Linked DNA regions of Homo sapiens: regions 2, 3 and 4 are each linked to region 1. The links come from fine-mapping of genetic effects on gene expression. A gene starts in region 1. Each other region holds a variant in brackets. All regions are shown on one strand. Distances are between the middles of the regions.

Evidence for each region.
Region 2: its variant is fine-mapped to the expression of NCKAP1 in blood mononuclear cells (TOPMed, PIP 0.98).
Region 3: its variant is fine-mapped to the expression of NCKAP1 in whole blood (INTERVAL, PIP 0.97).
Region 4: its variant is fine-mapped to the expression of NCKAP1 in Th1 cells (Schmiedel 2018, PIP 0.95).

What each region holds. Positions count from the first base shown.
Region 1 is chr2:183,033,396-183,041,708 of GRCh38, reverse strand. It overlaps NCKAP1 (NCK associated protein 1), which reads left to right and starts at 3,252. Exons shown (of 31, transcript NM_013436.5): 1 at 3,252-3,717. The coding sequence starts at 3,610. RefSeq lists silencers at 2,679-3,330, 3,063-3,652, 3,713-3,832.
Region 2 is chr2:183,058,208-183,066,520 of GRCh38, reverse strand. LOC124900540 (small nucleolar RNA SNORA77) reads left to right here and starts at 2,175; the gene lies at 2,175-2,286. The variant C/G (reference allele first, on the strand shown) is at 5,247.
Region 3 is chr2:183,107,762-183,116,074 of GRCh38, reverse strand. No RefSeq gene overlaps it. Among named protein-coding and RNA genes, the nearest start is that of NUP35, 13 kb to the left of the region's middle. The variant A/C (reference allele first, on the strand shown) is at 3,916.
Region 4 is chr2:183,245,556-183,253,868 of GRCh38, reverse strand. No RefSeq gene overlaps it. Among named protein-coding and RNA genes, the nearest start is that of NUP35, 130 kb to the right of the region's middle. The variant AGT/T (reference allele first, on the strand shown) is at 4,845.

The DNA of each region.
Region 1 (8,313 bases):
AGAAAATGTAGCTCAAATTGTAACAACATCTGACACAGTGCAAAAACCATAACTATTAAATCTAGTTATCCTCCCTTATTTTATTCCTATTAGAGATATTATAAAGTTGGCCACAGAAACTTATTATTGAGGATCACGTTTGAGGATTATTGAGAATCACGTTTGGCTGTAAGTAAATAAAAAAAAAAACAAATAAAAAAGCTAGAAGTTTATTTCTCTTTCGTACAAAACCAGGTCTAGACAGGCCAAGTTTGACATGGCTGTTGTGTTCTAAAAAGCCCACATACACCTTCCATTTTTATGTTTTGTCATCCTTACTGAGTGGCTGTTGTCTTCCTGGTTCAAGATAGTGGTCATTGCATCCTTGTTGGGTGTGGCAGAATGAAGGAAGTGAGGAAGAACTGGCAAATGGAGAGCAGCAGCAGTCCCTTTAGGAAGGTTCTTGACAGCTTATATCTTACTGGTCAGAACATAAGCTGCAAGGGAGGCTGGATGATGGATGTACTTTTCCTTTTTTTTTTTTTTTTTTTTTTTTGAGACAGAGTCTCACTCTGTCACCCAGGCTGGAGTGCAGTGGTGCAATCACGGGGCTCACTGCAACCTCCTCCTCCCGGGTTCAAGTGATTGTCCTGCTTCAGCCTCCCAAGTAGCTGGGATTACAGGCACGCATCACCATGCCCGGCTAATTTCTGTATTTTTAGTAGAGATGGGTTTCACCATGTTGACCAGGCTGGTCTCAAACTCCTGACCTCAAGTGAGCCATCCACCTTGGCTTCCCAAAGTGCTGGGATTACAGGAGTGAGCCAGCGTGCCTGGCCTCAATTTCTCTCTTTCTTTCTTTCATCTCTCCTTCCTTCCTTTCCTTCCTCTCTCCCTCCCTTCCTTCTTTCTTTCCTTTCTCCCCTCCCTTCCCCTCCTCCCTCTCCTCCTCCTTCCCTCCCTCCCTCCTTTGCTTGCTTGCTTCCTTCCTTCCTTCCTTCCTCTCTCTCTCTTTCTTTCTTTCTTTTTAAGACAGGGTCTTGCTCTGTCACTCAGACTGGAGTACAGGGGTGTGATCACAGCTCACTGCAGCCTCTGCCTTCCGGGCTCAAGTGATCCTCCCACCTCAACCTCCAGAGTAGTTGGGACCACAGGCACGCCACCACCCCCAGCTAATTTTTAAATTTTTGTAGATATGGGGGTCTCCCTATGTTGCCAAGGCTTGTCTTGAACTTCAGGACTCAAACAATCCTCTTGCCTTGGCCTCCCAAAGTGTGGGGGTTACAGGTGTGATGGAGCTTGAGCCTAGCAGTTGAAGACCAGCCTGGACAACATAGGGAGACCCTGTCTCTACAAAAAAGTTAAAAAGTTTAAGAAAAATTCCCGTACACTTGTTCTTTTTAATGCAAAATGTAGAGAAAGACAAAAATTGTAATTCATCTACATCTAATCTCTTTTACGCAAATATATACATTTCATTACAGTCTAGGGCCAGTATGTCTATGAATTAGTGACAATAAATATTGAATAATGAGACTACTATCTACAGCGTTCTCCTATTGGGTACTTCCTGAGTTATAAGCAGCTACTAGTATTCAAGTTTATATGGCAACATGATAGTTTTTCTTGGGGAGTAAGAGTTGTGTTCAAATTTATAATACAGTGCCATTTTCTTGTTCTCCCTATACAGCAGTTTTTAAAAACTAGAAAATGAGACAATCTTTTATTGGTAGCACTCTGTAATTCTGCGTCTAGACTTAGTTATTTGTAGTCTCCCTAAAGGAGCACATATTTCCCCAATGTTCAACATTTTTAAATTTTCTTATCTGGCTACCCCAAACCCCTCCTCGCAGCCTCCCCTTCTCAGGTCTGCCCTTACTATTCCAGGCCCCACAACCTTGCCTCCTCTAAATTAAAATGTTAACTATCAGGCTGAGAAGTAACCAGATAAATTAAATTCCTTGACCAGTTAATGACTAGTAATAGCTCGACAGATGATCTCTCTGAAGTGTTTGTATTCTTAAGACTCTCTAGGTACAAAGCATTCATTCAAGGTACTGCAGCTTTGTATATAGAATTTCAGGCACACTGGCAGGTATGATTATGACTTCTTTTGGTGGGAACAGGACTCTTTTAAATGCCCCTTAGATTAAATCCATTCAGTCCACTCCTTCTTTCTTGTTGGAATATTAAAATGAAGATTTCTTTACGAATAGTAGATATAGTAGCTTTAAAAAATATTTTAAAGCTATTCATTACAATTTCCTTTTCTTAAAGAGTTTTGATAAATCCAGTGATGGCTTATTACTCTTAGAATGTCTTATTGAATGTGGCGGGACATTTTGTTACTGACTTAAAATTAATGAATATAATATAAAAAATTAACATATCGAGAAAAGGCAAAGCCAAAAATATTAGAGGCCTGAGTCCTCTTGGCTGAAGTTTCTCACCTCAATTACGTAAGTCCTCAGTTAGTTCACTTTTGGAATCATGTCTAATACATTTGACAAGGGAGTAGCCTTGGAGTGTCGCTAAGAAGAAATTGATCAGGAAAAATGAGATGGCAAAGAAGAATGTTTCCAAGAAGAAGTGGGATTTAGGGTGGAGGCTGTAAAAAAATGGGAGCGGTTCCTTTAGGCATTGAACAAACATTTATTTTTTGCCTTCCACATGCCAGGACCTACTGCGTCTCCTCCGGATGGGTGCTCCTCGCCGACAAAGTCTAGATTGTGATTATCTCAAGGACTTGAGTTACCCTCACTTCCGACCTCCTCTCTCACAAACTGGTTCCAGGCGGGGAGACTGAGGATGGGCTGGGGAGGCTGGCAGAGGCGATCCCCACCTCGCGGAGCACAACATCTGCTGTGTTCTGCGGCGAGCGCCTGTCAAGCAGTGGGAGGAAAAAGCGCTTGGAGCCACCAGCCCACTCTTAAGCGAAACTCGCCTGGAAAACACCCCGCCTCCCAGCAGAGTTTCTGCCGGTTTCTTTAGAAGGGTGGTGCGGAAAAGCAACTTTTGGGAACTTGAAGGAGTGGGGTGTGGGGCGAAGTGGAAAGAGCACACAACGCGACCCCACTCAGTCCCCGCTTGGGACTCCCATCCCGGCATCAGGCGTAGTGGGCGGTCCGGGCCAGGGCCAGGGCCAGAGCGGCGGCGGCGAGGCCATGCCGAGGGCCCGTCGGCCGCAGTTCCCCGTCCGGCCTCGCGGGGGCGCCGGCGCTGCCGATCAGGTGACCGAGGGCCCGTCCGGGGCTGCGGGAAGCGGCCTCGTTCTCAGCCGCCGGAGACGCCGCCGCCGCCGCCGCCGCCGCCACACCTAGTGGAGCAGCCGGGGAAGGCGGCTCGTTGGGGGCTGGGGCGGAGAGCGCCGGGGGTGGGGGCGGAAGGGCGGCGGGCGGAAGGCAGGAGGCTGCCGGGGCGCGGGCTGCTGCGGGAGAAGGGGCTCCGAGGAGTCCGCCGCGGCTCGCTCTGTCGCCGGCGCGGGATTGGGGCGCGAGGGCCATGGGCGCGCTCTCCTAAGGCGGAGGTCGCGGGCGGGAGGGGAGGAGGCCCGAGAGAGGCTGCTGCGAAGGCCGCGGGCCCGTGACTGGGCGCGAGGCGGCCGGCGGCGGCGGCGGCACCAGCACCACCATGTCGCGCTCAGTGCTGCAGCCCAGTCAGCAGAAGCTGGCGGAGAAGCTCACCATCCTCAACGACCGGGGCGTCGGCATGCTCACCCGCCTCTACAACATCAAGAAGGTGCGCACGGGCCGGGGAGGCCGCGGCGGAGGCGGGCGGGCCCGGGAGGGATGAAGGGCAAGGGAGGCCGTGGGGTGGGGGCGGCAGGAGGCGCCGGGTGTAGAAATCTCGGCGTCGCCGCCCGAGGCCCGGCCCGGGGTCGCCTGGATGCGCCGCGGCCTAATGCGGAGTCCCGGGCGCCTCTCCCTGTGGTTCGCCGGCCGGCCGAAGGCAGAGAAGCCATTTCCCGGCTCCCGGCGGCGGGATCGGGCGCTGGGCCTCGCACGGGGTGGGGGCGCCGCTGGGAGCCGGGAGCTGTCCCCTCCTCGGCGCCCCCGCCCCCATGATGGGGCCCATAGGAAAGGGAGGGTGGTGGGTGGGCGAAATTCTAGGTGGGTAGGAAAACTTGAGTGTTCCATATTCTTACGGAGATGGCAGCAGTGAACAGGGATTACACCCCACATCCCCATTTTTTGGTGTGGGAATGTGGGTAGAGAAGGGCTGATTGGATGAATCCCGTATCCCCTCCACTTTGCCACTTTATTTTAGATTGCTAAATAAAAAGCCATTGAGAGTGTGTTGACGATTTGGGATTATTTCATTTTGAAGGTGGAGAGGAGGGGGAAGTGAGGGTGGAACCAATTTTCTGAAATACTTCTAGGCTGTGAGTCACTAGAACTGGAATAACAACCTTCTACTCTTTCCCCTGTACTCCTCCTCATGTTAGATTTTCCAATACCATTTCTTAAAGTTCGGTGTCTGTACAAAATAAAAACCGTAAAAATGTTGCAATTGCTGCTGATTTATAGCATAGTCTGATAATTTGAGCAACTATAGCTAATAGGCCCATTTAAAGGCTTTTACATGTCCTCAGTACAGTAAGGAGTGGAAGACCACTGGAAGTTTAGAAAAGTCCATGTAAAGATAGAACAAATAATTACATTCATTATCGTAGGACAAAACAACAAAATCTCTCCCCTTAAGGCAAGGTTGGTAAGTTTTAAACAATTTGATAAAGAGAAAAAGAGATATTTGGAAAATTTAGATCCATCGAGTTTCCAATGTGTCTTTGATGTCATACCTTCATAACTATTTGTTGGCTTTTTAATATATCGTGAATGTTACCGTTTAGTTTAATCATAGCAATAGATTGTAGGTTGAGAGGGCTTCTGAAGAAAGGTTTTTTTTTTTTTCTTTGGAAATTCATTTCCAAGCGTTTGAGTGTAAAATTGATTTATTTTTTACAATTTGATGTAGACACTAATTCTAAAGAGTGTCCTGGTTTAATGATGATAAATTTTGGATAAGGACAAAGTCTGGTTGCTCACCTAATTGCAAGGCTTTATTACTCTAAACCCAGTGCTATCTGGAGAGTAACTGCAACATGCTTACTCAGTTTGTTACCTTTTATGTGGCAGGAGCTCAGTGTCATGACAAAGAAGCCCCTCTGCATTTACCAAGGAGCCTAGGTTATAAATTTATATAGGTTAGGAATAATTCAGTTTTAAATAGTATTACTTAGAGGTTGCATTGACCTGAACTGTTCGGGGAGATTGTGCTGCTTAAAAAACTTGGAAATTGATTCCTATATGAATTTTGTCCAAAAATGAACAAGTCAAATATTATAAAAGTTACTAGACCTGTGGTATTGTGGTTTAAAGGAAATGGTTATGATGGTTTCTAAAAGAGGAAGTGAGAGTAACATCAAAAGTGATTTGGGTATTTGGGCAAAATACCTTTTCTAAGCATTTATTAAACATTTTTGTAGGATAAATGCAATCAAACTTTAATATCCCACCTTCATAAATAAGATTAAATGAAATTCTGGGCATTTGAACTCTAATAATTCCAGTTCATTGCCTTTTCTCAAAAGCACTGTTTTTTTCACTTCCTGTTTTGGGAAGCTTCAGCCTCTTGTATTATTGAACTTGTGAAAGTTAAAATGCATTGAATGTGATCATTATTATATCCATGTCAAATATTTTGATTTATTGAAACGTCATATTTTAGCACTTGCCTTATATTTTTAGTTTCTTAAGAAATACATTGCTTACCTTGCTTGAGTGTGAATTTTCTCTGGGCAGGGACAGTGTAATTTTTGAAATACTAGAGTATTTAGGGCCTTATCTGATACTCGAGGCCTTCAGTTAGGCCAGGTTGAAATGAATGAATTACTTCCCTCCTCTCTCTCAAAACCTGTGTGCTCTAGTTTTAATAATAATACCCTTGGGTTTGCTCCCTTTGTGTAATTTTGCATGTAAATGAATCAGATAAGATTTTGGATCTTTCAGCCTATAGAATTGTCTGTGAGTCTGGCATATCTTCCCAGCTGGCTAGGAATTGAAACATTTGTTCAAATATCTTGCCAAAGAAGTGAGTAAGATCTGTTCACCATGTGTTTATTAGGTTCATGCTGTCTGCATTCTTACTGCATTATAAACCACATACTCTTTTCAATCTCAACCTCTTCTAGTCTTAAAAAAAAAACCTTCCACCTCATAATACATGTTTGCCAATCAATTATCACATTTTCATTAATGCATGTGCATTAGATTGTCTACCAGATCTAATTACTCTGTTTCAATTGGAAGTATACAGTGGAAATGATATTTTAGTGAACATATACAATGAAAAATAGTTAAGTAAAATAACTTATTATTGTCAGTAATATGCTTTGGCGCTTATTAGGGAAGTTGGAGCATGATTACTGAAGAATGTTTTTTTTTTTTAATTTCATCAGTCAAAAATTTTGAGATCTTAATATTTACAATTTATGGGAATTTTAGGGAACTTGTAGTTTGACGGAGGATGTAGGAACACATAAAAGCGGATTTTAGGGAAAAGACTTGAAGGTTGTTGGTAGCTTTACATTTAAATTTATTTGTTGCTTAATTCCTTTTTTTTTGTTTTTAAATATATGGTTTCCCTTTTGCAGACCTAATAATGTGACTCACTCATGTAGAGATTTGTAACATTTTTAAAGGTTCCAGCATGGCAACTTGTGTGGTGGTGGGATTAAGAGCACTGGGCCAGAAGTTAAGAGACTTGCATTCCAATCTTCATTCTGTCACTGAGAGTTCTCTAACATTGGTTAGTAATTTGACTTTCTTGAGCTTCACTTTTCCTCATCTGTAAAATGGGGAAAATTAACTGTAAAAGGAACACTAAAGTCTATTCCAGCTCTATCTTTATGATTTTATGGTGAAGTAGTAGAGTAGAAATTATGTTTCATTTTAAACAATAACTGAACTCAGTTTAGTTTTCTGTAATGTAGGGAGCATAATGCCTGCCCTACATACTTCACAGAATTGCTTCTGAAGGTAGAGGATGGTAATATGTGAAAATAGTATTTAGGAATCTGAGCATCTCTTTTGGGCAACATTGTTTTTCTGAAATTGTATAACTGTTCAACAAAACTGCCAAATACCCAAAGAAAACATTTTGCTCAGTTAAATTTTTGTGTGTGTGGTTTACTCTCTTCTTTTTTTCCTTCTCCTTTCTTTTCCTCCACCATTACCAACATGAGATTAATCTCTGTATTAAAAAGATCTTAGTTAATACTTGCGTCTTTTCCTCCTGTTAAATTTCTGCCTGTACTGTAAAGGTCAGAGAATGAGAAAAAAAAAAAAACCCATACAACTATTACAAACTTTTTAAAGTGGAGTATTGTGGTGGTTTAAATGCAGTTTTACTTCTTTAAAAACATTAGAGGAATATTTTTCTTTTTTTCCCTATCCTTTTCTCATTATTTTGGATAAATTTATTTTCTAAGGAAAAGTTTAACAGGACTAGCATTGTAAAATTGAAAGTCTTTAGCCAGTATCTGCTTATTTAGTGGGGGAAGAAAAGATGTTTGTGAAGGGAGCAGTGCAGGGTAAAGGGAGGGGAACTGGTTTTAGTCTTCCCTTTCAGTATTGTATTTGTTTCCACTTAGGGTGTTATTTTCTCTTTTGGTCAATCAGATGCAGAAGCGTGTTCCAGAGATGCTTAGGAAAATAATTATTTTTAATTTTTAAGTAGCAATGATAAATAATCCATCTTTTGTTTCCTTTATGGAATTGTTAAGTAACTTTAAAATTTTTTAATGATTACCAGAGGAATATATGTTTATTGTCAAAAACTCAAACATAACATAAATGAGTGACTTCAAAAATTCACTGTCTGCCCATCTTTATAACTTTATAAGCTACTGAATTGTTAGTTTGTAAGTAGGGTTGTATATGTGCCAGTTTGAAATGATTCTCTTGTTTTAAGTAGAAGAACCCATACTGGAAAATGCTTTGTTATTGCATAGTTGACTATTTTAGATAGTAATAAAATTGCATCTTTAAAACTGTTTTATAAGCCATCATATGAGCTATTCTTTCAGTTACTCTCAAATATTGAGGTTTTCCCTTTTAATTTATTCATTTACTCTTCGTTTATTGAATGTGTTCCCTGGCATGAGGGAAATAGAGGTAAATTAAGATGAAGTCTCTAGTGCCAAGAAATTAGTGTCTTAGTGGGGAGAGAGATGTATAGATATTTAACTAAAATGCAGTGTGTAAGTAGGATTGTCGGAGTCTTGAGAAGGGAATTAAGGATTATAATCTGGGAGAGATGGTAAAGAGGAGAGTC
Region 2 (8,313 bases), 25 kb before region 1:
AATAATGAAAAGCTGGGAAGAAATATGATCAAATTACTTTAAAGAATCAGGAATAATATGGATAATGTGAACGAAGTTAATAAAATCCTAGGATATTAAAAATAATAGGGAACATGTTTTGAAGTTTAAAAGAAGTACTTTTATGTCAACTAAAAGGATATGGTGGGTAATGAAGTTATTGAATGCATTGTCTTATGTACTGGTAGAGACAGCAACAGAATAGTATCCAACAAGCTGAGAAGATGTTTGGATTATACATCAACTAAGGAAAGCATCCCTATTTCTGGATTTGTAATTGATGAATTAGAAAGCTATAGCACTGTCCCTCAAAATTTATTGTAGTGTCAGTATTATTTAGAATAATCAACTGGTCCAATACAATATGACATGTCTCTTTTTTAATCTTGAATCCTTTCTTTTTCAATTGAGTCAGGAGTCCCCTGTAACTTTTTTCTTGGAAATGTTCCTAAAAACCTGTATATTTTCCTGGAGCTATTTATGTAGATATTTTATAAGGATGAATAGTTAAATGCTAGAAGCACTAGAGCTATACATAAAGGTGAAACGCTAACTCTTTTCAAACAATGGTTATTTAAAGACATATTAATTAACCTGGATGAGGCTATGTAGAGTGAAAAGATGTTTTTTCTGATTTCTGAGGGGTCTCTCATTCTACATTAAAAATCTTTTACTTCCTGAGACAGATTTAAAAGATTAAGATTTTAAAACTTTATATGTATTTTTAAAGGCGTGGATCTAATTATTAATACATTGATAAATAATATTTCATTTGAGAATAAGCCATATTAGATGGACAAATTTGGGGGAAAAACTTCACAAGTTATTCAGTACTGAAATTCTAGAAGGCAGTGTGATAAGAGTACTAAAATGAAAGCAAATCAAGGTTATATAATCAGCTTTTTTGCTGACCTACGTTTTGTATTTTGTTGATTTTATCTCTAAAACTACATGATGCCTAAGTTTGAAAATGGCAGCAAATACTGAGAAATCATATGTGACTTTTTTTTTTTTTGAGGCAGAGTCTCACTCTGTCACCCAGGCTGGAGTGCAGTTGTGCATCTCTGCTCACTGCAACCTCCGCCTCCCGAGTTCAAGCGATTCTCCCGTCTCAGTCTCCTGAGCTCCTGAGTAGCTGGGATTACAGGCGCGTGACACCACCCCGGGCTAATTTTTGTATTTTTAGTAGAGACAGGGCAGGGTTTCATCATGTTGGCCATTATGGTCTCGAACTCCCAGCCTCAAGTGATCTGCCCACCTCGGCCTCCCAGAGCTCTGGGATTACAGGTGTGAGCCAACCCACTTCGCCCATACATGGCTATTTTTAATGAAAAGATTGTGAAAGATGATTAGTTTTTTTATAGTTGTACTTTTTGTGTACTCTTTAGCTATTATAGGTTGTTTGTTTACTAATCAGATGTGTTAAAATCACTGTCTTAAAAAAGCAGAAAACATGTATTTTGTTTATTTTATGTATATTTCTTGTGATTCTATAAAACAAGTCAAAGTACATGGCTTACTTTAAAGATGTGTTTAAATACATATGCAGTAATTAGTCTTGAAAAAATTAACTCTGGTGCATGAGAAAAGATTTCTTTTCACACAAGAAAAGAAATAGATGAATGATGGCATGTAGCTTCAAAGCTAAATGTGGCTAAATCATTGGTGTATTTAATCACTTGCATGATGGAGAAAGCATTATTATTATTACTATTATTATTATAGTTATTATTGTTTACACTACTGAATTCAGTACCCTGCGTTGCACCCTATACACAATGAAGCCTTTGAAGTTTCCAAGGAAAATAGAAAAAACTCCAAATTGTGGAGGAAAAAAGATTTCTTATTGACTAGTTCAATTATTCAAAAGAATTGTTATTATGATGTTTTGCATTTGATTTAAAACGATGGGGGAAGGAGGGTTGTAAACCAAACAGAATAAGCCATATGTTGATAAGTATTGAAGCTGGGTGACGGATACCTGGGAGAGGGCTTAATTTTACTATCCTTTCATTTTTTGTTTGAAAATTTGAAAACATCCATTATAAAATGTAAAGAAAAAGGTAAAAATATTAAAGCAAATTAACTTTATCAGAATATATGCCTTTGTGATCTCGGCAAGTGATCACTGAAATGTTAAAACCTTTATTTTCTTTGCAGACTCCCTCAGCATCCAGCGGGTGCTTTTTCGGTCTGCCAGTGAGCATTCCATGGTGCTGTGACCATTTTGACCTCTCTAGGGTGATGCAGCTGCCTGGGGACACAGAGGGTAAAAAATTCCTGAAGAAAAAGAAAAGTCCAAGTGGAAAAAGGAAACAAGGCCAGGCGCAGTGGTTCATGCCTGTAATCCCAGCACTTTGGGAGGCCGAGGCGGGTGGATCATGAGGTCAGGTGATTGAGACCATCCTGGTGGCTAACAGGGTGAAACCCCGTAAAAATACAAAAAATTAGCGGGGCATGGTGGGGAGCACCTGTAGTCCCAGCTACTTGGGAGGCTGAGGCAGGAGAATCATTTGAACCCGGGAAGCGGGGAGGTTGCAGTGAGCCAAGATCGCGCCACTGCACTCCAGCCTGGGAGACAGAGTGAGACTCTGCCTCAAAAAAAAAAAAAAAAAAAAAAAAAAAAAGGGAAACAAAAGAAAGAAGGAAGGAAGGAGGGAAGGAAGGGGAAGGGAAGGAAGGAAGGAAGGAAGGAAGGAAGAAAAAGAAAGAAAGAAAGAAAGAAAGAAAGAAAGAAAGAAAGAAAGAGGGAAAGAAAGAAAGAAAAAAAGAGAAAGTACTTAATTAGCCAGAGAGGGAGAGAGAAACTAGGTAAATACCTATGCCCAATATTGAGTGCTTTGGGAAAAATAACTCAAGAACTTTTTGTAATATTTTCTGAGTTTGTTTTTTACTTTTTTTGTATTTCTACTTTAAGAAGCAGTGATGTCTAAGAAACATGCTCTCATTTATTTTACTTGTTAAGTATGTTGTTACTCTTTAAACTTGATTCAGACTACTTTATGGTGTTTTTAAAAAGTGGTTTTTATATCATCATACAATATTACATTTTAAAATGTCTAAGATGTGCAGGCCCTTCCACCACCAAATGTCAGCACTACATGGAATTTTATTATTATTTTACAAAAAGAGGAACAACATAACTTTATTGTGCATGTGTTCACGAGCTCTTGTGCATCTGTGTGTAATAATATAGCTATTTATGTCTTAGCATGGATGACTCTAACTTGCAAGCTGTAGAGTCACACAACGTGTGCTCATCTCCATGGTAACCATTTCTAAGATAAATGCACTTCTGAACAATGGTCCCAAAATAGCCTATTACCCATTTTTGTAGATTTCCACTGTGGCAGCAAAAAACAATTTTGTAAAACCTTGATCCATTCTTTAACCAACAAAAATAGAGACAACAAACACATATCCAGATCTGCAGAGAAAATATTGTTAAGTGTAATGACATTTTCTACAACAAACTCAGGATTTCGTGGATCTGATTTTTATTTTATGAATTATCTATACTTAATGTCTCTCCTGCAACTTTTTGACTTCCTACATTTAGCTATTTATCTGTTCTGAGATTTCTTTTCTTTTTTTTCTTTTTTTCTGAGACAGGGTCTCACTGTCACCCAGGCTGGAGTGCAGTGGCAAGATCATAGCTCATAGCAACCTTGAATTCCCAGGCTCAAGGGATTCTCCTGCCTCAGCCTCCTAAATAACTGGGACTATAGGTGCACACGACTGTGCCTGGCAAATTTCTTTTTTTTTTTTAATTTTTAGAGATGGGGGTGTTACTATGTTGCCCAGTCTGGTCTCCAACTCCTGGGCTTATGATCCTTTTATCTTGGCCTCCCAAAGCATTGAGATTATAGGTGTGAGCCACCTTGTCAGGCCTGAGATTTCTTATCTGTAAAATGAAGGGGAAGAAATTATCTCCAAGGACTTTTTTAGGTCTAAACTTATGATTTTATGATTTCTCCACTCAAACCATTATGAGAAGGGAAGCAGGGGAAATAAAAACAACTGAAACTTAAGTTAGGCAATCTTTGCCCCTTGTTAGGTTAAATAAAAGAGACTTTTAAAACTATTTACCGGGCCGGGCATGGTGGCTCACGCCTGTAATCCCAGCACTTTGGGAGGCCGAGGTCGGTGGATCGACTGAGGCCAGGAGTTCGAGACCAGCCTGGCCAACATGGTGAAAATCCCCCGTCTCTACTAAAAATACAGAATTAGTTGTGTGTGGTGGCACATGCCTGTAATCCTAGCTACTCAGGAGGCTGAGGCAGGAGAATCGCTTAAACCCGGGAGGCAGACGTGGCAGTGAACCGAGATCGCTCCATTGCACTCCAGCCCGGGTGAAAAGAGTGGGACTTCATCTCAAAAAAAAAAAAAAAAAAAAAAAAAAAAAAAAAAAAAAAAAAAACAAATAAAACTATTTACCATCACAACTGGATTGCATTCCCATAAATTCCAAATAATTTAGTCTTTTTTTCCTATTAAAGTTGACAGCATTTTCTTAAAGTTTAGAATATCTTAATTTTCCCAGTGAGAATAGATTGAAAAGTGTTCTCACAATGGGGAAAACCACTTTCTGTAATTTTAAAGATGCTCATCCTTCACATACCCCTCCACATTGGCTCTGCTGGGGTTTTGATGTCAGACTCCTCTAAGAAAGCAGGAAAGCCTTTGTGAACCTCAAATGAACAGGGGCAGAATAGATGTCAATGAAGAGAATGGTAAAAAGCAGAGCTGATTCTACCCAGCCCTCTTCAGCTCCTGGGAAATGGAAAGCTGACTACTTGGGTTTGGTAGCTCTACCACTCCCCCTAACACTGCAACTCCCAGTGCCATTAAATTATCTATGTTCCAAGATTTAGAGGGATAGGGAGAAGATAGGCCCTTTTTTTAAAAAATTTTATTTTATTATTATTATTATTATTATTATTATTAATTATTTTGAGACGGAGTCTTGCTCTGTCTCCAGGCTGGAGTGCAGTGGCGCTATCTCAGCTCACTGCAATCTCTGCCTCCCAGGTTCAAGTGATTCCCCTGCCTCAGCCTCCTGAGTAGCTGGGACTACAGGTGTGCACCACCACACCCGGCTAATGTGTTGTATTATTAGTAAAGACAGGGTTTCACCATGTTGGCCAGGATGGTCTTGATCTCCTGACCTCATAATCTGCCCACCTCAGCCTCCCAAAGCACTGGGATTACAGGCGTGAGCCACCACG[C/G]CCAGCCCCTTTATTTTTATAAGGGTAAACCTTTTTTCAGAGCAGGCTTTGGCAGAATTGTGACACCATCTTTTTCCTTTGAAAGCAATCCTTATTGACCGCCCAACTCTGAGCACATTTCTTTGAAATGGTTTCCTGCCTTTGGAGTGCCACATCTTCTCTCACAGCATTCCTGAATGCTGATAAGTTCTCTCCTTCTGCTCTCTTCAGGGAAGGAGAATGTTATGCCTGTCCGTGTAAGAGACCACCTGAGCAGGCTTAGTGTGAGCAACAAGGCTGTTTATTCACTTGGGTGTAAGTGGGCTGAGTTTGAGAAAGGAATCAGCGAAGGGTGGTGGGATTATCGTTGATTCTTATAGGTTTGGGATAGGCGGTGGAGTCAGGAGCAATTATTTGCGGGCGGGGGATGGATGTTACAAAGTACATTCTCAAGGGCGGTGAGTGTGTATTGTCACAAGCGTGGGGAAGAATGTTACAAAGTACATTCACAAGGTTGGGGAATATCACAAAGTACATTATCACAAGGGCGGGGGAATGTCACGATGGCTCGACCATGGTGCGACCAGCTCAGAGGACCTTACAGAGAACTTCCTCCTTCTCTTATCAGGGCATAGGGAACTTCTTACAGCACATTCTGGCCAGACCAAGACTATCGCTGTTATTCTTTTCCCAACCCCAGACCCCACCAGACCCACCCCTAAACAGACTAACTCCTCTTACACCTTCCTCCTCAATACAAGGCTGCCTACTGACCTAATCCGTGCTAACAAAGGGAAAGGGGGGTCTGGAGCATTTGCATCTACCTTTTGGACGTAAGTATATTTAAAAAGCCACCCTCTGCAGTCAGTGCCACTACATTTTTTGGCTAAAGCAAAGAATGTTGGGGACTTTAAAACAGTAGAGCAGCACCATAGAATGCCTATGAATGGGATGGTTTAGGCAATGGGCTCTTCAGTGCATGGTTTCCATCAAAGTGCCACAGAAGATGTAAAACAGCTCAAGTGCAACTTTATTTTGGTTCCCATAAATTAGTCTGGATTTTGTACCTCAAATGTCCAACCCAATCAGTCATTGTCCACAGGCCAAGTGGGACTTGAGATCACTATGCCTGTCTTGTCCTGATCCCTTGTCAGACCAAGAACGGATATACCTCTCAGAAGGCCCATTTGTCTGAATTACATAATCTTTTTGGTTATGACCCTAGAACACTTTAAAGAGGCAGATATACATTACTAAGACCTGCCTACCTACATTTTCTTTCATTGGCATATAATTCCTACGAAATTTCTTGGTGTAGGTTTACTATATAACTCCTGTAACTCTTTCCTACTATGAGAATTTAGATTGTGTCTGATCTATGTTATTATTAAAAGCATTTCTGTAATCCCTGGGTGAGTATTACTGTTGACAAGACAGGTAGCACAAGTCCTGGTAGCTTCATGCCTGCCAGTTCTTAAAGAAGAGCAAATTACTTAGAAGAAAAACAAAGTGATTCATTCAGTAAGTGGTTGATTTTTCTCTCTTTCCACATGGTGACTCAGCAAAATGAAAGCATTGGGTACATTCTTACTTCTCGAAGAAACCAGGATTTAGGAAGCACTACTCATATAATTATGATATCACATGCTGTTAGCTTAAGTTCAGTTTGATAGACATGTTTTACCCCTTGGTTTGGCTATTGCCAAGAGTGTCACTTTGATATTTGTTCTTACCATCTCTTCTTTTTAAAATGTTGATAAAAATTACCATTAAGAAATGTGAAAATGTCTAGCTTTCAACACCTGTAGTCCCAACTATTTGGGAGACTGAGGAGGGAGGACTGCTTCTGGCTAGGAATTCAAGGCTACAGTGAGCCTGTGAATAGCTGGTGTATTCCAGACTGGGCAACATAGCAAGGCCCTGTCTTTAAAAAAAAAAAAAAAAAAAAAAATTGGCCGGGCGTGGTGGCTCACGCCTGTAATCTCAGCACTTTGGGAGACCGAGGCAGGCAGATCACAAGGTCAGGAGTTCGAGACCAGCCTGACCAACATGGTGAAACCACATCTTTACTAAAAATACAAAAATTAGCTGGGCATGGTGGCGTGCACCTGTAATCCCAGCTGCTCAGGAGGCTGAGGCAGGGAAATCGCTTTAACCCGGGAGGCGGAGGTTGCAGTGAGCCGAGATCTCACCACTGCACTCTAGCCACTGCACTCCAACCAGGGCGACAGAGCAAGACTTCGTATCAAAAAACAAAAAAAAAATTGTGCTGGGAGTGGTGCTGTGCGTTTGTAGTCCCAGCTACTCTGGAAGCTGAGGCACTAGCATCTCTTGAACCTGGCAAGTGGAGGTTGCAGTGAGCTGAGATCACACCACTGCACCCCAATTTGGAGGACAGAGCGAGATTCTGTCTCAAAACAAAAAAAAAAGAAAACAAAAAGAGTTTCTATTATATTATTTTTTATTCTAATGTATTATTTTAGCATAAATAAGAGTTCTGGTTTAGATTACGGACAAAACCTTTACATTCAGGTTTGGAAAAATGTCATTAAGTGTCAAAGCTGGGTGATCATTACATGGGAAGTTAATATACTCCTCTATTTACTCTTTTCATGTTTGAAATTCTCTGTAATAAAAATGTTTTTTTTGTTTGTTTGTGTTTTTGACTGCAAGTTCTGCCTCCCGGGTTCACGCCATTCTCCTGCCTCAGCCTCCCGAGTAGCTGGGACTACAGGCACCTGCCACCACGCCCGGCTAATTTTTTGTATTTTTAGTAGAGACGAGATTTCACATAAAACGTTTTTTAAAAGCCCAGATGCAATGGCTCATGCCTGCAATCTCAGCACTTTGGGAGGCCGAGGTGGGCAGCTCACCTGAGGTCAGGAGTTTGAGACCAGCCTGGCCATCTCAAACCCGCCCCTATTAAAAATACAAAAATTAGCCAGGCAGGGTGGTGCAGGTGCCTGTAGTCCCAGCTAGTTGGGAAGCTGCAGCAGGAGAATTGTTCGAAACCAGGAGGTGGAGGTTGCAGTGAGCACAGATCGTGCCACTGCACTCCAGCCTGGGAGACAGAGGCAGCCTCCGTCTC
Region 3 (8,313 bases), 74 kb before region 1:
TTTTGCCAGGCATAGTGATGCACGCATGTAGTCCCAGCTACTTGGGAGGCTAAGGTAGGAGGATAACTTGAGCCCAGGAAGTTTGAGGCTGCAGTGAGCTATGATCACACTACTGCACTCCAATCTGGGTGATAGAATGAGACCCTGTCTCTTCAAAAAACAAAAAACGAAAAAAGGAAAACATGAATCTTTCCTTGCTTGATAATGCCTTTGTTTAGAGAATCAGCGTGTTGTTGACTACAGGTGCAAATCTTGACTTCAAATACTTAATAGACATGTGACATTAACATCTCTAAGACTCTGTTTTAAAAATCTGAATAGTGTGAATAATTTTACCTACCTCATGTAATACATTGACTTATTTACCCAGCAATAGATATATATTAAATATAATATATTCAACAATTGAATTTTAGCCTAATGGTCTTATCTGTCATTCAGCATACGATGTAGCCTTTGATAAACTAATTTGGCTTCTTCCCCCATTAATCTGCCAAACAAGTCTTTCCAAAGTCACCAAAGACCTCTGATATGTTTTGGATCTGTGTCCCCACCCAAATCTTATATTGAAATATAATCCACAGTGTTGGAGGTGGGGTCTGGTGGGAGGTGATTGGATCATGGGGGTGGATTTCTCATGAATGGTTTAGCACCATCCCTCCTGGTACTGTCTTTGAGATAGTGAGTTCTCATGAGATATGGTTGTTTAAAAGTGTGTAGCATGTCCCACCTCACTCTCTTGTTCCTGCTTTCACCATGTGAAGCACCTGCTCCTGTTCTCCCCTCCACCATGAGTAAAAAGCTTCCTGGGGCCTTCCCAGAAGCAAATACCACTATACTTTCTATACAGCCTGCAGAACTATGAGCTAATTAAACCTCTTTTCTTATAAATTACCCAGTCTTGGGTATTTGTTTATAGCAATGCAAGAACAGACTAATACAACCACCATGAGGCTAAATCCAATACATTTTAGGTTCTAACCTTTTGTAACTTCTCAGTGTGAGTTCTTGAACACTCTCTTTGTAGCCTTCAGTTTCTCTGGCAATATACTCTCTTGAGTTCCCTCCTGCCTCTCTCACCATATGACCATGTCTTTTCTTGACTCATCCTCCTCTACCTAGCCACTAAAAATTGTTCCCATAGCCAGGTGCCAGTGACTCACACCTATAATTCTAACATTTTGGGAGGCTGAGGCAGGAAGATCGCTTGAGCCCAGGAGTTCGAGACCAGCCTGGGCAACATAGCAAGACCCTGTCTCTATAAAAATAGTAATAATAATAATAAAATTGTCCCCCAAGGCTTTATCTTATGATCTGGCCTTGCCCTACACTCTTTCCTCATATGTTGTCATCCATGCACATTGCCTACAATGACTCTCAATTCATATCGCCAGCCCAGATCATTCTGTGTGGTACAAATTTATGTATCCAATTACCTACTTGACATATCTATTTGACTTGGATATCTCAAAGGTACTTCAAAATCAAATTTAAAAAGCCAAACTCATGGTCTTTTGTATAAAACTTGAATATTTATCTCAGGGAATGGCACCACCAGCCATCTAGTTATTAAAGCATGAAACCATGGATGGTGTTGAAAACCTCTCTTTCCAACACAAATTCAATGCCAAGTCCTGTGAATTCTACCTCCTAAATACCATTTAAATGCATCCATTTTTTTTTCAATTTTTACTGCTTCAGCAAAATCTCAGTTTCATCACCTGAGACCTGGACCTAGCTTCCTTAATGATCTTGCTTTCCCTCCCTAATCCACTCTCCACAGTGCAGTCAGACTGATCTTTTTAAAGTAATATTCTGCATAAGTTTCTCTCCTGCTTAAAACTTTTCCATTTTGCTGGGTGCAATGAGTCACACCTGTAATCCTAACAGTTTGGGAGGCTGAAGTGGGATTGCTACAGGTAGTCCCACCTGCTTGGGTGGCTAAGACAGGAGGATTGCTTGAGCCCGGGAAGTTGAGGCTGCAGTGAGCCCTGATCATGCCACTGCACTCCAGCCTGGGTGACAGAGCGAGATCCTATCTCAAAACTTTTCAGTTTCTTTCACTGTTTAAAAGGCCAAAATCCTAGAGCTTCCTACAAGCCCCTGCTTGATGTAGCCTAACAGTCCAGCCTCATCTGACACCACCTTATCACTTCTGGTTCACTGCTCCAGCCATTCAGCCCTCTTTCCATCACTCCAATGTGTCATGCTCCTTCCCAACCCTGGGTCTTTACCTATTCTCCTCCCTCAGTTTTGGAAGACCTGCAACAACCCACTCTCCCTCACTTAGTCAACGCCTACTTATCTTTTCTAACCGATGGTAAATGTCACTCAAAAGTCAGGAAAGCCTTCCCTCATAACTAGATGAGGTTACTGTTTGAGTTATATATTTCTGTACTTTAAAAAATAATCCATATCTTCCCTCCCAACTAGATTATAAGCTCCATGAAGTCAAGGACTTGTGTTTTTTTCATTAAGCCTTTTAAAAACTTTATTTTTGAGATATTTATAGATTCACCAGCAGTTGTAAAAAACAATGCAGAGAAATCTCATGGCCCCTTACCCAGTTTCTCCCAATGATTACATCTTGCAAAACTAAAGTACAATGTCATAACCAGGATATTGAACAGTGATACATCAAGTTAAAGGACATTATTATTACCATGTTGCCCTTTTATAACCCCACCAACTTCCCTCTCCTGCCACCATTTCCTTAATTCCTGAAAATCACTATTCTGTTCTCCATTTCTATAATTTTGTCATGTCAAGAATGTTATAGTAGTGGAATCATACAGTATGTAACATTTTGGGGATTGACTTTTTTACTCAGCATAATTCTTTGTAGATTCATTCGGCTTGACGCACACACATCATTAGTTTGTTCCTCTTTATTACTGAATGGTATTCCATGGCATGGATGCATCACACTTTAGACAGCCATTCACCCATTGAAGAACATCTGGGTTGTTTCCAGTTCTGCCTATTACAAATAAACTGTCTATAAACATTCATGTACACGTTTTTGTATTAATATATATAATCATTTATCTGGGGAAAATGCCCAGGGGTATAGTTGCTGGGTCACACAGTAGTTGTGTATTTAGCTTTTTTAAAAACTGCCAAAATCTTTTCCAGAGTAGCCGTACCATTTTACACTTCCACCAATAACATATAAGTGATTCCATTTCTCTATATCCTTGCCAACATTTGGTGTGTCATTATCTCTTAGCCATTCTGGTGGGTATGTAGTGATATCTCATTGTGGTTTTAACTTGCACTTCCCCAGTAGCTATGATGTCGAACATTTTATTATGTGCTTATTTGTCATCTGTATATCCTCTTCAGTAAAGTGTCTCTTCATACATTTTGTCCATTTCCTAATTGGGTTGATTTTTTTTCTGACTGTTGAATTTTGAGAATTTTTTAAATATATTCTAGATGCTAATCTTTTGTCAAATACACGGTTTGCAAATATGTTCTTCCATTTTTCATCTTCTTAACAAGGTCCTTCAAATAGCAAAGTTTTTAATTTTGATGAGGTCCAATTTATAAATTTCCAATTTATAAATTTTTGCTTTTGTGGGTCACAAGTTTGGTGTCAAGTCTAAGGACATTTTGACTAGCCCTGGAACCCAGTGATTTTCCTTCTTTTTTTTTTTTTTTTTTTTTTTGAGATGGAGTCTCACCCTGTTGCCCAGGCTGGAGTACAGTGGTGCAATCTTGGCTCACTGCAACCTCCATCTCCCGGGTTCACACCATTCTCCTGTCTCAGCCTCCCGAGTAGCTGGGACTACCAGCACCTGCCACCACGCCAGCTAATTTTTTTGTATTTTTTTTTAGTAGAGACAGGGTTTCACTGTGTTAGCCAGGATGGTCTCTATCTCCTGACCTTGTGATTGATCTCCTTGGCCTCCC[A/C]AAGTGCTGGGATTACAGGCATGAGCCACCGCACCTGGCCAATTTTCTTTGATTTTCTCCTAAAAGTGTTTTAGTTTTCCTTTTAAGTCTATACTCCATTTTTGGTTAATTTTTGTTGAAGGTATGGGATTACATAGAATTTCTTTCTTTTTTTTTTTTTTTGGCCTATGGAAATACAGATGTCCAATTGCTCCAGCATCATTTGTTAAAAAGGCTACCTTTCCTTCATTGAATTGCTTTTGCACCTTTGTCAAAGATCACTTGAACATATTTATATGGGTCTACTTCTGGATTTTTTTGTTCTGTTCCATTGATTTAAGTGTCTGTCTCTTTGCCAATACTACACAGTCCTGTTTACTGTAGCTATATAACCAGTCTTGAAACCAGATTACTTTATTCTTCTTTTTCAAAATTGTTGTAGCTATTTTTGTTTCTTGCCTTTCCGTATACATTTTAGAATAATCTTGTCTGTATCTGTAAAAAGTCTTGCTGAGGTTTTCATAGGAATTTGATTAAAGCTGTGTATCAATTTGAGGTAAATTGATACCTTTACTACACTTAATTTTTCAATACATTAACAATTTTCTACATTTATTTAGATCTCTCTTTATTTCTTCATTAGCATTCTATAGCTTTTGGCATATAAGTTCTGTACATGTTATATTAAATTTACACCTAAATATTTCTTCACTTTTTTTTTTTAATTTTTTTTTGAGATGGAGTCTCACTCTGGCTAGAGTACAATGGCACAATCTTGGCTCACTGCAACCTCTGCTTCCCGGGTTCAAGCGATTCTCCTGCCTCAGCCACCAGAGTAGCCGGGATTATAGGTGCCCACCACCATTCCCAGCTAATTTTTATATTTTTAGTAGACATGGGTTTTCACCATATTGTCCAGGCTGGTCTCGAACTCCTGACTTCAGGTAATCTGCCTGCCTTGGCCTCCCAAAGTGCTGAGATTGCAGGCCTGAGCCAACGCGCTCGGCCTCTTCACTTTTGTTTTTTTGAGTGAGTGTAAATCATATTGTATTTTTAATCTTAGTGGTTGTGTTTGCTGCTAGCATGTGGAAGTACAATTGCATTCAGTTTTTTTGTAAATTCTTTGGAATTTTTTATGTAAACAACTATGCAGTCTGCAAAAGGAACTCTTTTATTTCTTCCTATCTGATCTGTTGCCTTTTATTTCCTTGTTTTGATTTATTACACTGGCTAGGAGTTGCAGCAATATGTTGAAGAAGAGCAGTGAGAACACACATCCTTGCTTTGTTCCTGATCTTAGGAGAAAAGCATTTAGTCTTTCACCATTAAATATAATATTATCTATAAGGTTTATTTTATTTTGTTTTTTATTTTTATTTATTTTTTTTTTTGACATGGAGTCTCACTCTGTTGCCCAGGCTGGAGTGCAGTGGCACAGTCTCGGCTCACTGCAACCTCCATTTCCCGGATTCAAGCAATTCTCATGCCTTAGCCTCCCGAGTAGCTGGGATTACAGATGCCTGCCACCACACCTGGCTAATTTTTTGTATTTTCAGTAGAGACGGGGTTTCACCATGTTGCCCAGGCTGGTCTCAAACTCCTGACCTCGTGATCCACCCGCCTTGGCCTCCCAAAGTGCTGGTATTACAGGCGTGAGCCACCGTGCCCGGCTATTTTTATTTTTTGAGATGGAGTCTTGCTCTGTTACCCAGGTTGGAGTGCAGTGGTAGGATCTTGGCTCCCTGCAACCTCCAACTTCTGGGTTCAAGAGATTCTCCTGCCTCAGCCTCCCAAGTAGCTGGGACTACATGTGCGTGCCACCATGCCTGGCTAATTTTTGTATTTTTCGTAGAGACGGGGTTTCACCATATTGGCCAGGCTGGTCTCGAACTCCTGACCTCAGGTGATCCACCTGTCTCTGCCTCCCAAAGTGCTGGGATTACAGGCGTGAGCCACTGTCTGCAGCTATAGAGGTTTTTTGTAAATGCTTTTTATCAAGTTGAGAAAGTTTCCTCTCTATTCTTATTTTTCTGAGAGTGATGAATTGGTGTTGAAGCTTGTCAAATGTTTTTTTCGGTATTAATTTACATGATTATGTGATTTTTCTTCTTTTCCCTATTAATATGGTTAATTATACTGATTTATTTTCAATAGTTGAGACAACCTTGCATCTCTGACATAATCCACTTGGTCATGCTACGTCATTCTTTTTATAAATAGCTGAGTTTTTTAAAAAGCTGTCTCCTACAGGAAGGAAGAGCTAAATTCTTTTTTCTAATATTTTGTTAAGGACTTTTGTATCTGTATTGAAGAGTGATCTTGGCTGTATTCTTTCTTTGCCTGTTTTGGGTATCAGGCTAATACTAACTTCATAAAACGAAATGGAAATCGTTTCCTCCTCTTCTGTTTTCTGGAAGGGATTGAGTAGATTTGGTGTTGCTCTAGGTACTACACTATATATACATAACTGATCACACTCTACTACTGTTATTTTAACTATTTCAAATAAAATATGGAAACTTTTATGCCCTTTTATCCTTCCCCATTTGCAATATAATTGTTTTAGATATTTCCTCTACATACAGATAAAAACACATCAGACTGTTACCATTATGGTTTAAACCCTCAAACTTAATGTAGTAACTCAAGGTGACATGGAAAGCTTATTCTATTCAGTCATATTTTGTTTGCAAAGTTATTTCTTGTTCCAAGAATTTTTTTCCTATATCATTTTGTCTCTGTTTAGAGAACTTCTTTTAAGCTATTATTTTAGAACAGGTCTGCCGGCCACAGCTTTTCTTCATTTTCCTTCATATAATAATGTCTTGAGGACAGGCACAATAGCTCACAACTATAATCCCACCACTTTGGGAGGCTGAGGCAGGCTGATCACTTGAGTCCAGGAGTTCGAGACCGGACTGGGTAACATGGTGAAACCCTGTCTCAACAACAACAACAAAATACAAAAAATTAGCTGGATATGGTGGCACATACCTGTTGTCCCAGATACTTGGAGGCTGAGGCAGGAGGATTGCTTGAACCTGGGAGGCAGAGGTTGCAGTGAACTGAGATCATGCCACTGCACTCCAGCCTGGGCAACAGACATCCTATCTAGAAGAAAAAAAAAAAAACAAAAAACCAAAAAGCAAGAATGTCTTGATTGATTTTCCCTTAATTCCTAAAGACTATTTTTTCTGGTTGTAGGATAAACATTTGAAAAATATGATGCCACTTCCCTTTGGCCTCCATGTCTTCTGATAAGAAATCCACTGTCATTCAAATTGTTTTATACAGACAGGGCCAGGCGCAGGGCTCACGCCCGTAATCCCAACACTTTGGGAGGCCGAGGAGGGTGGATCACCTGAGGTCAGGAGTTCAAGACCAGCCTGGCCAACATGGTGAAACCCCATCTCTACTAAAAATACAAAAAGTTAGCTGGGTGTGGTGGCAGGCGCCTGTAATCCCAGCTACTCAGGAGCCTAAGACAGGAGAGTCACCTGAACCTGAGAAGCAGAGGTTGCAGTGAGCTGAGATCGTGTCATTGCACTCCAGCCTGGGCAAAAAGAGTGAAACTCCATCTCAAAAAAAAAGAAAAAAAAAAAAAAGAGTCTGCAGTATCAAAGAGCCACATACTTCAGCTTGCGGTGGCGGACAAGGTATAGCTGTTCTTATTTGCTGAAAGAGAAAAGACCACAGAATTGAATACCAGTGATTTCCCGTTTTCTTAACTCTACTGAAAAGGTAATTTACTTTTTTTTAAGGAAAGCTTTTATGACTCTTCATTTTTCTATAATTAATGAGAATTGTAGTATATATTATTACTTATTGAAAGAGAGTCTTTGTTATTATAAGAATATGGTTTATGTTGTGAGAAAACATCATTCCTGAGCTACCCATGATATAGAAATCTACTTCAACTTTTAAAAAAACTGAGTGCCTACTATTAAGCCACATTATCTCATTTAATCTTTAAAAGTACTCTATGAAATATCTTTTTTTTTTTTTTTTTTTTTTTTTGAGACGGAGTCTCGCTCTGTCGCCCAGGCTGGAGTGCAGTGGCTCGATCTCGGTTCACTGCAAGCTCCGCCTCCTGGGTTCACGCCATTCTCTCGCCTCAGCCTCCCGAGTAGCTGGGACTACAGGCGCCCGCCACCTCGCCCGGCTAATTTTTTGTATTTTTAGTAGAGACGGGGTGTCACCGTGTTAGCCAGGATGGTCTTGATCTCCTGACCTCATGATCCGCCCGCCTCGGCCTCCCAAAGTGCTGGGATTACAGGCATGAGCCACCGCACCCGGCCTGAAATATCTTAAAAAGTTAATTTGCCCAAGTAAGCAGTGAAGTCAAAATTTAAATTGACAATCTGACTTTGGAGCTTAGACTCTTATTTCAGAAAATATTCCATTTCTTTTTATAAAAGC
Region 4 (8,313 bases), 210 kb before region 1:
CTTCCTCTACATGTATAGCATCTGCTTATTCGTAACTTTGTCTCCTACCTCAGGTCCGTCTCGCCGTGTCTCTTTTTACTTCTGCTCCCACAGCCAAATGTCAGCTTTCCATATATATATCTCTCTCACATCCAAATCCTCAATAAAGTAGAATGTTGTTGGTCAGAAAAACTCTCTCTTTGAGCAGCCTTTTGTACTCGGCACCTTAATGCTGATTGGATAGTTCTGTGACAGATGACCCTTGTCTGATTAGACACGGGAAAGAAGACAGCTGCTTGATTGGTGGTTGATAACTGATGAGTGCATGGATGCCCCTGGATGCAAAAGGGCCTAAGAAAAGCAGCACCTGGCTGGGAAGCTGACCCCCAGCAATAACCCCAGGCCAGGAAATGAGAAAATGAGTTTTCAGTGTATAGTTGATCGTCTCTGCCCGTTTGTTTTAGCTTGTTTGTGTTGCTGTCTGTTCATTAATTTGTTCATTTGTTTTTAAGTGTAGAAGATGAGAGCAGGGGAGCTCCCAGAACAGAGTTTAAGTAAATTAAAGGAAGTTTCTATCTGGAACTAATAAGGATTATGGAGATGAAGATGAATTGTCAGGGCAAAGCAAAATAATTAGGAAAAGACTAGACTAAAACTGGCAGGAGTTTTTGCATCAAACTCTGGTTTTGTCTTCAACTAGTTATATGTTTTGGGGGCATTCTGGGGGGTAGGTACCTATCACAATAATTGCTAAAGTAGTTTAGCAAACAACCCAGGTGCTCACTCACCTCCCGTCCCCCCTCACTCCCACTGCCACTGTAACATGGTTGCCATACCAGAATTCTTCCAGAAGATAGGGAGGCTGTTATTGGAAAAGTGCTTCAGAAGTGATTTAGATAAACCCACTACCACTCCACCACCCTGGTTTACAGTCATTGGACTAGCTGACATCTCAGATAATGCTTTGATTCTTTTATAACTTACGAGTTTCAGAAGTAATAAAAAATTAAAAACTCTTTGGAAGATAATCATGAGACTGTACAGGCCGGGGATGGTGACTCATGCCTGGAATCCTAGCACTCTGGGAGGCCGAGGCAGGTGGATCACCTGAGGTCAGGGGTTCGAGACCAGCCTGGCCAACATGGCAAAACCTGTCTCTACTAAAAATACAAAAATTAGCCAGGCATGGTGGTGGGTGCCTATAATCCCAGCTACTTGGGAGACTGAGGCAAGAGAATCACTTGAACCCAGGGGACAGAGGTGGCAGTGAGCTGAGATTGCACCACTACACTCCAGCCTGGGCAAAAGAGCAAAACTCTTTTTTTTAAAATCTGTAATATAAATTATAAACATAATTTTATAATAGTAAGAAGTTTAGAAACCATCTGAATGTCTATCATAACAGTATAGCTGGATCTCTATGATACATTAAATGAGGGAAAAAATGAACACTATAATACTGATGCAAATATTTATTAAATAAGCAAAACAACAATTTAGAGTTCCAACATTTTCTATATATACATATCTAAATATATTAACAAAGCCTGGAAGGATCTTTGGGGAGTGGAAAGGAGGAAACAAAGATGGGGAAGTGGCCCAAAGGAACTCTATTCTCTCTAGATCAGAGCTTTATGTTTTTAAAAAGGAGAATGTACTCATGCAGTGTATGTATAATTTAGTTAATTTGTAAAGGAAACAGATCAAAATAAGTTATTTGGAGGCTCCTGCCTGACTGGCACACCTGAGCTTCTTAGAGGATATGTCACACCCACAGCCCCTGCTGAAAATTTTCATTCACTATTCCACCCATATTTAGTGAGCACCTGCCATGTACTAGGCTTTGTTCAATCTAGGCAGTGGTGGTGCTGCTGCGAGCAACTGCTCGGTGTTCTTCCCCATATACTTGCTTCTTCTGCTAACTCATCATTCTGCCTCTCCTACTCCATAACTTTGAGTTGCGTGTGGCTTTGGTTTGCTATAGAACCAGCTCCCCACTCTAACACTTTGAAGACAGTGTCATATAGTGGCTAGGCACAGGCTCTGGAGTCAGACTGACTGGGTTCCAGTACCAGCTCTACTACATCTTTTGTCAACTTGTATAAGCTATTTTACTTTTTAGTCATGCCTCCATTCTTTATTTGTAAAATGGAATCACACTGATCCATATCATACAGTTGTGACGATTAATGCATTAAAACATGAAAAAAGCCTAGGACAAGAGCTGACACACAGTAAGCTCTTGACAAATATTAAATGTTATTACCAGTATTTTAAGAGCCAGTCACAAATAACCAATGTCTCAGGTCAATTTTTTAAGAGAAAATCCAATCAGCTCAGTTCATTTGAGGGCTTTACTTCTCCTTCTCATGTTGTTCACATATGGCCACAAGATTATCCCTGACCATAACCTCAAGACCTTATATGATCCAGCTTTGGCTGGTGTGATGGTTAATACTGAGTGCCAACTTGTTTGGACTGAAGGATGCGAAGTATTGATCCTGGGTGTGTCTGTGAGGGTGTTGCCAAAGGAGATTCACATTTGAGTCAGTGGGCAGGGAAAGGCAGACCCACCCTCAGTCTGGGTGGACACCATCTAATCAGCTGCCAGCACAGCCAGAATATAAAGCAGAAAAACGTGAAAAGGCTAGACTGGCTTAGCCTCCCAGCCTACATCTTTCTCCCATAGTGGATGCTTCCTGCCCTTGAACCTTGGACTCCAAGTTCTTCAGCTTTGGGATTCAGACTGGCTTCCTTGCTCCTCAGCCTGCATAAGGCCTATATTGTGGGACCTTGTGATCATGTGAATTAATACTACTTAATAAACTCATAAATATATATAATATCATATATATATATATATATATATCCATCCTATTAGTTCTGTACCTCTAGAGAATCCTGACTAATACAGCTGGCCCCGCCTGACCTCCTCAAGTTCACCTGGGACCATTTGTTAAAAGTAACTTACAAAATAAAAAGAGAAAGAAAATAGAATTCTGACATTCATTATAAAACCTGACTATTGTTCTTGTATTTTCTATTCATGAATTTCTCTCTTTTTTAAATAATCACTTTTTTCTTGAACCATTTGAGTGGGTTCCTGTTCCTTGCAACCAAAGAGCCTAGAATAGAACAATTCCTTCAAGTAAATGGGTCACACACAAAATATCCTCATACTCATTGCTTATGCGCAAGTGTTGTACAAGTGACTTATTATATAGGAATGATGTTCGAGAGAAGTAAAAGCAGAAAGCCAAGTCTTTTTTGTGGTTCAAGAAGAGAAAAGATGCTCTGGGTGGTAACAGCAGAGTGTCATTCAGATGCAAAATCTAACCAACCCTTTGTGTGAGAATCTGTTTTATTACCTTAAGTTCTATTCTGTATTCATTAAATTGAACCCTGAAGGGACTTCGATTTTGCAATATGTCATTAGTTACAATGCTAACCTGAAAGTCAAAACTATATTTTGTTTTAGAGTATTCTATAATTCTAATTTCTCAGAAATTTAAACTGCATTTCTTTGCAGTCTGATAAAGTGAAATTTTTATCTGTTTACTAGGATGATAGGAATGATGTGGGCATCCCCTACCTGTTCAAACCCGCACATAACCTGCTCCATGGCAACTTTGCCCATACTGAAGAAATAAAAACACTTCTCCCTGGAGTCAGCAATTGGCAGCTGCTTTGCCTCAAGGACAAGGTCTATGTCTTTTTTAACTCAATCAGCTCAGCACCACGCCAGTGCCCTGCACAGACAGATGCTCCATAAATGCTTTTGAATCGACTAAGATGGCCAGAAAATGTAGTGTCTTCTCTCCTTTCTTCACCTGCTGCCTAAAGTGAGCTGAGAATTGGTAGGAACATGTTGGGAGAGAGAATGATAAAGGCAGAACTTAGATGCTGAGCCTAGCATTTAGAATAATAATGAAATTTTCTGAGAAGATTCTTCCTAAAATCCACATGTATTCAGATAATCCCACCAGGAAATATTACAGGTGATAAATTCAGCACAATTGCATTTTCCCCAGGTTCCCAGGAACATTTTATCCATCTCAGTGTGGTAGCCAGAAATCAAAAGAAGAGAGTGCAGAATTAACACCTGCACATTTTTAAGGATTTAATGAAATATTTATAGACTATTTCAGCCTTCTAATAAAAGTTATTACCCTTTGGTTGGTAAGTGTGACCTCCAGGGGACAATAACATTCTATTACATCTTAAAATTCTATAAAGTTATTAGTTATCTCCTATGGAAAACAATCCTTTATTGACAAGAGATAGGATGGATAGTCTAATAACTGAAATGATTCCATAAATAAATTTCAACTTGAAAGCTCTGTTGGATACACTTACCAAATCAGAACTTTAACATTTGTTATTACAGGACTCTCAAAATTATAGCTAAGTATTGCTGAATTACATGGGCACATCAGAACCAGCTTTACTCTTGTCTTGCAGGACATGTGATTATGAATTGTGTAAGAAAACTGATCAAAAAGAAATTATATATTTCCTGTCATGACTAATAGTCTCCTCTCATGTCTTCCTTTTAGGTCTATAAAGCTAATAAAATATAAGTCTGAATCATTAACAAAACTCTAAAAAATGAACACTGCTTTTCTAAAAGGAGATAAATTATGTTAAATAGGTTGTTTCCGAATAGATAAAAAGTTTTGAAACATACACTTAAATTTGTACATATGAATGAGATTGAAACATATTATGTGTGTGTATGTATATAGAATAGTCTAATGCTTTTTCATTTGAGATGGAGTATAAATAAAGTAAATTGCACCATCTGCTGGCTATATTTGGAAACAGACTCTAATTCTAAGCTCCAAGGAAAGGAGGTAAGAATTGAG[AGT/T]TACCTCCAAATATCAGGAAAAAGGCTACATCCAGCAAACAATGAAAAACATCAGTGCACTTCCATTCAAAGCCTTGAGGGTTCACTAGAAAGCCACTCAATATTGTAGAATCAGTTGCCATCTCAGTCCTACCAAGTGTTTCTGCCCTGGTGCTGGCATTATCAAAACAGTGAAATTCATGTCAGTATTTCTCATCATACACTGCAGACCCAACAATAAATACTAAACTTTAATGTTGGGAAATCCAAAGCCCATTCACACAAACAGAATTGCCAGGCTCACAGCATTTGGAGCTCATATTTTGGTAAAAGAAGTTCGCAACTCATCAAATTTATAAATCTTTTAGCCAGCCAAATTCTGAGTAATGTAGTACATTTGAATACACTTTAATAAAAAGAAGAGAGTCTCCAAATTTGGAACTGGAGGCCTGTTGAGTCCTACCTATGAGCTGAGATTTATAGTTATATTTCCTAAGTTTTAATCCAGCACTCTTAAAAAAGATACATCCATACCACAGCTTTCAGCGACTTCACTAAGTTTATCATTCCAAAGGTAAAATATTGTCCTATATTCTCCTTGCTCACTAGTCCTCTTACTCAGCCTGGTATTATTTTCTCTTTCACTGTTAAATTAGGTGAGTGAGGAGCTTTCCTATCTCAAGATGTCTGAACACTACCCCGTATTAATATTCACTCCCTACTAATTTTTCTAACTTGTTCAATCACTGTTGCATTTGAAATATTTTATCCTTGTTCCATCTACTACACTAAATCACATCTTGAAAAATTCAATTACAAGTTCAGGTGAATGATTTGAACTTGGGTTTTGTTGTTTATGATGCCACTGGAACGCATCAACTGTGCTGCATTCAATACAGGGAGCACATTACTCTTTACACAGTAATAGCTTCTTGTGAGGCTCTGGCTTACTGTAGACCTGGAGCTTATCTGTAAAATCTTTTTCTTTCCTAGTGTATTTTTCATGTTGTGAACCTGAATCATTTTTCTATTCTATTATGAAGTACTAAAGTAACTTGTATCTTGTTGTAAAGAGGAAAATCAACTTATCTTTTGAAGGAGTCCAAGTTTTATATTGAATGTAAACTATTAAATGCAGTTTTCCAACTGGATGTGACAATGTAGGACAAATGTTCTTGTCAATGATTATTTTCAAGGTGATTTAATCTTTCTCAAAAAGCAAGTTATATTTAGCCATTACTTTGGGGGAAAGGTAATTTTTTCAGTTAACATTTCCTCAACCCTGACATTTTCTTGCTTTTATGTATTTATTATTTGAAATCTCTCCATTATTTCAACAGTTCTTTGAATACACAATTCAACCCAACAATTTAATAAATGTTACTAAAGTCTTCTTGGCAGGAGCTTGTAATCTAATAGGGAAAAAATACAAAAACAGCTATTACAGCACAATGTGGTAAGAACAATAGTGGAGATATACTGTGTGCAAAGGCCCTTGTCGCATCCTTTACAGACTGAGAAAGACATCAGGCAAGAAGTGACTTGAGCTGAGCTGGCCCCTGAAGGATGGACAAGAATTTACCACCTGGCAAGGGACAGATGGGGAAGAGATTTCAGGCAAAGAAAAAGCATGTGAAAAACTCAAGATGTGAAAGAATGTGTAAAGTTTCCTTTTTTCCATTCCCAGTTCCTGCGACATTTTAGATGAAAGGTTCCACATGGAGAACTGATTTTCTAATAATGTCAAATATAAACTAAGGAAAGTTTAAATTTTTATAAATGAAATACCTTTTAGTAAACATGTCTTCAAATATAAAATCTTTATTACCAAAAAATATATATTCAACTGTATTTTATAAATGTTTTCAGATTTCTATACATGGTCAGTGGCAGGGAAGGAGGGGTTCCTGAAGGAATAATTAGGTGCCATGGAGTCAAGTTTAGTGTGATTACAAAATAACCTGAGAAAGATCAGTATAGGTATATCCTTGTAGAGTTCGCTGGCAAGAAAAAAAAAAACTAGCTTTGCTTTGTACTCAGAATAATCCACAGTCAGGTTGGATAGCAGGGCTATGACCTTGTCAATGACTTTATTTTCTAAAATAAGATAGGTAATTAGTTGTTCCTTTTGCTTTTATTAGGATAGACACAATTGGGAATTTCTGCATTTATTTTCATAGGAAGTTTCACCTGATTCTTAGCTTGTGGCACCCTGTGCTATTGAAACTGAGATTTAATGATGAGGAAATGAATAGAAACATGGGCTAAATACTCCTGGAAATAAATGCATGCACTTTAGTGCCACTGAGCAATTGGAAGTTTTGACAACTTAGGGCTTCAGGGTCACACGTTTACACTGCAGGAGATCTGCATTTTATTTCCACCAATTTTCCCTATGAGTGTGGGGTCAGAGGACAGAAGTATATGTGTTTCAAACATATGGGTATTTTTTAATTAGGAAAATTTCAAATGTATACAGAAAAATTAAGATTATTATCAACATAATCAAGTTTGTTTCATCTATAACTTCCCTCCTCTTGCCCAGATCGTTTTTGAACCAGTCCCAAACGTCAGATTATTTTCTCTGTAAACATATTAGTATGTATCCCTAAAATATAACTCTTTGAAAACAAGACCACAATACCCTCAAGAGATATTTTTACAGTATTAGAGATTAAACTTTATATAACTTCTATATCCAATTTATGTTATGTAATTACTAAATAACCTCTAGAAACATATATTTTGTCTTTTTCATGAATGAAAAGAAACTTACTAGCTAAACAGATCTTCAATAACAAAGCATTTTTAGACTACATATAGAGTATATATTTATAGGAAGAGAAAGCGTAGTATAACATATATATGCGTGTATACATATTCATTATACATATATATACACATATGTGTGTACATACATGTATATTTATTTACTCTTTATGTAAAATATATCCTAAATGACAAATAGTAACTCTTTAAGAATTTTTCTCAGTGGGACTTAGAATAAATTGGCAGAGTTTATGGGTCACTCATAGAGCAGAAACCAGAACCGTGCTCCCAGAGTGCCAGGAGAATTAGCAGAACCTTAGACGAAAGTGAACCTTCTGAGAAGGTTCTGAGAAGATGTAACACAAGAGGCCAAGAGTTTCAGCCCTAGCAAAAATTCCCACTCTGAGCTTAGTACAAAATGTATAGAGCTACTCTCTTTAAGGAATCAAATGGGATTGGACTGAAGAGCAAAGGATTGCCCCCCAAAAGCTATGAATGCATTAATTCAAGTACTGTGGACAAAATTTATACCTGCTTCAGGTATTCCCATATTTATTTGACTAAAGCTGGAATGGTCATCTACAACAGAAGGAAGCTTCCCTACTGTCTGAAGTCAGTCTACTGTAGAAGTAGAAGTAGAAGTCTGTCTACTGTACCCTGCAAGCTTACACAGTCTATTAAAAAGGGTTGAGAAACACTGGCCTGACATATAAATTCTC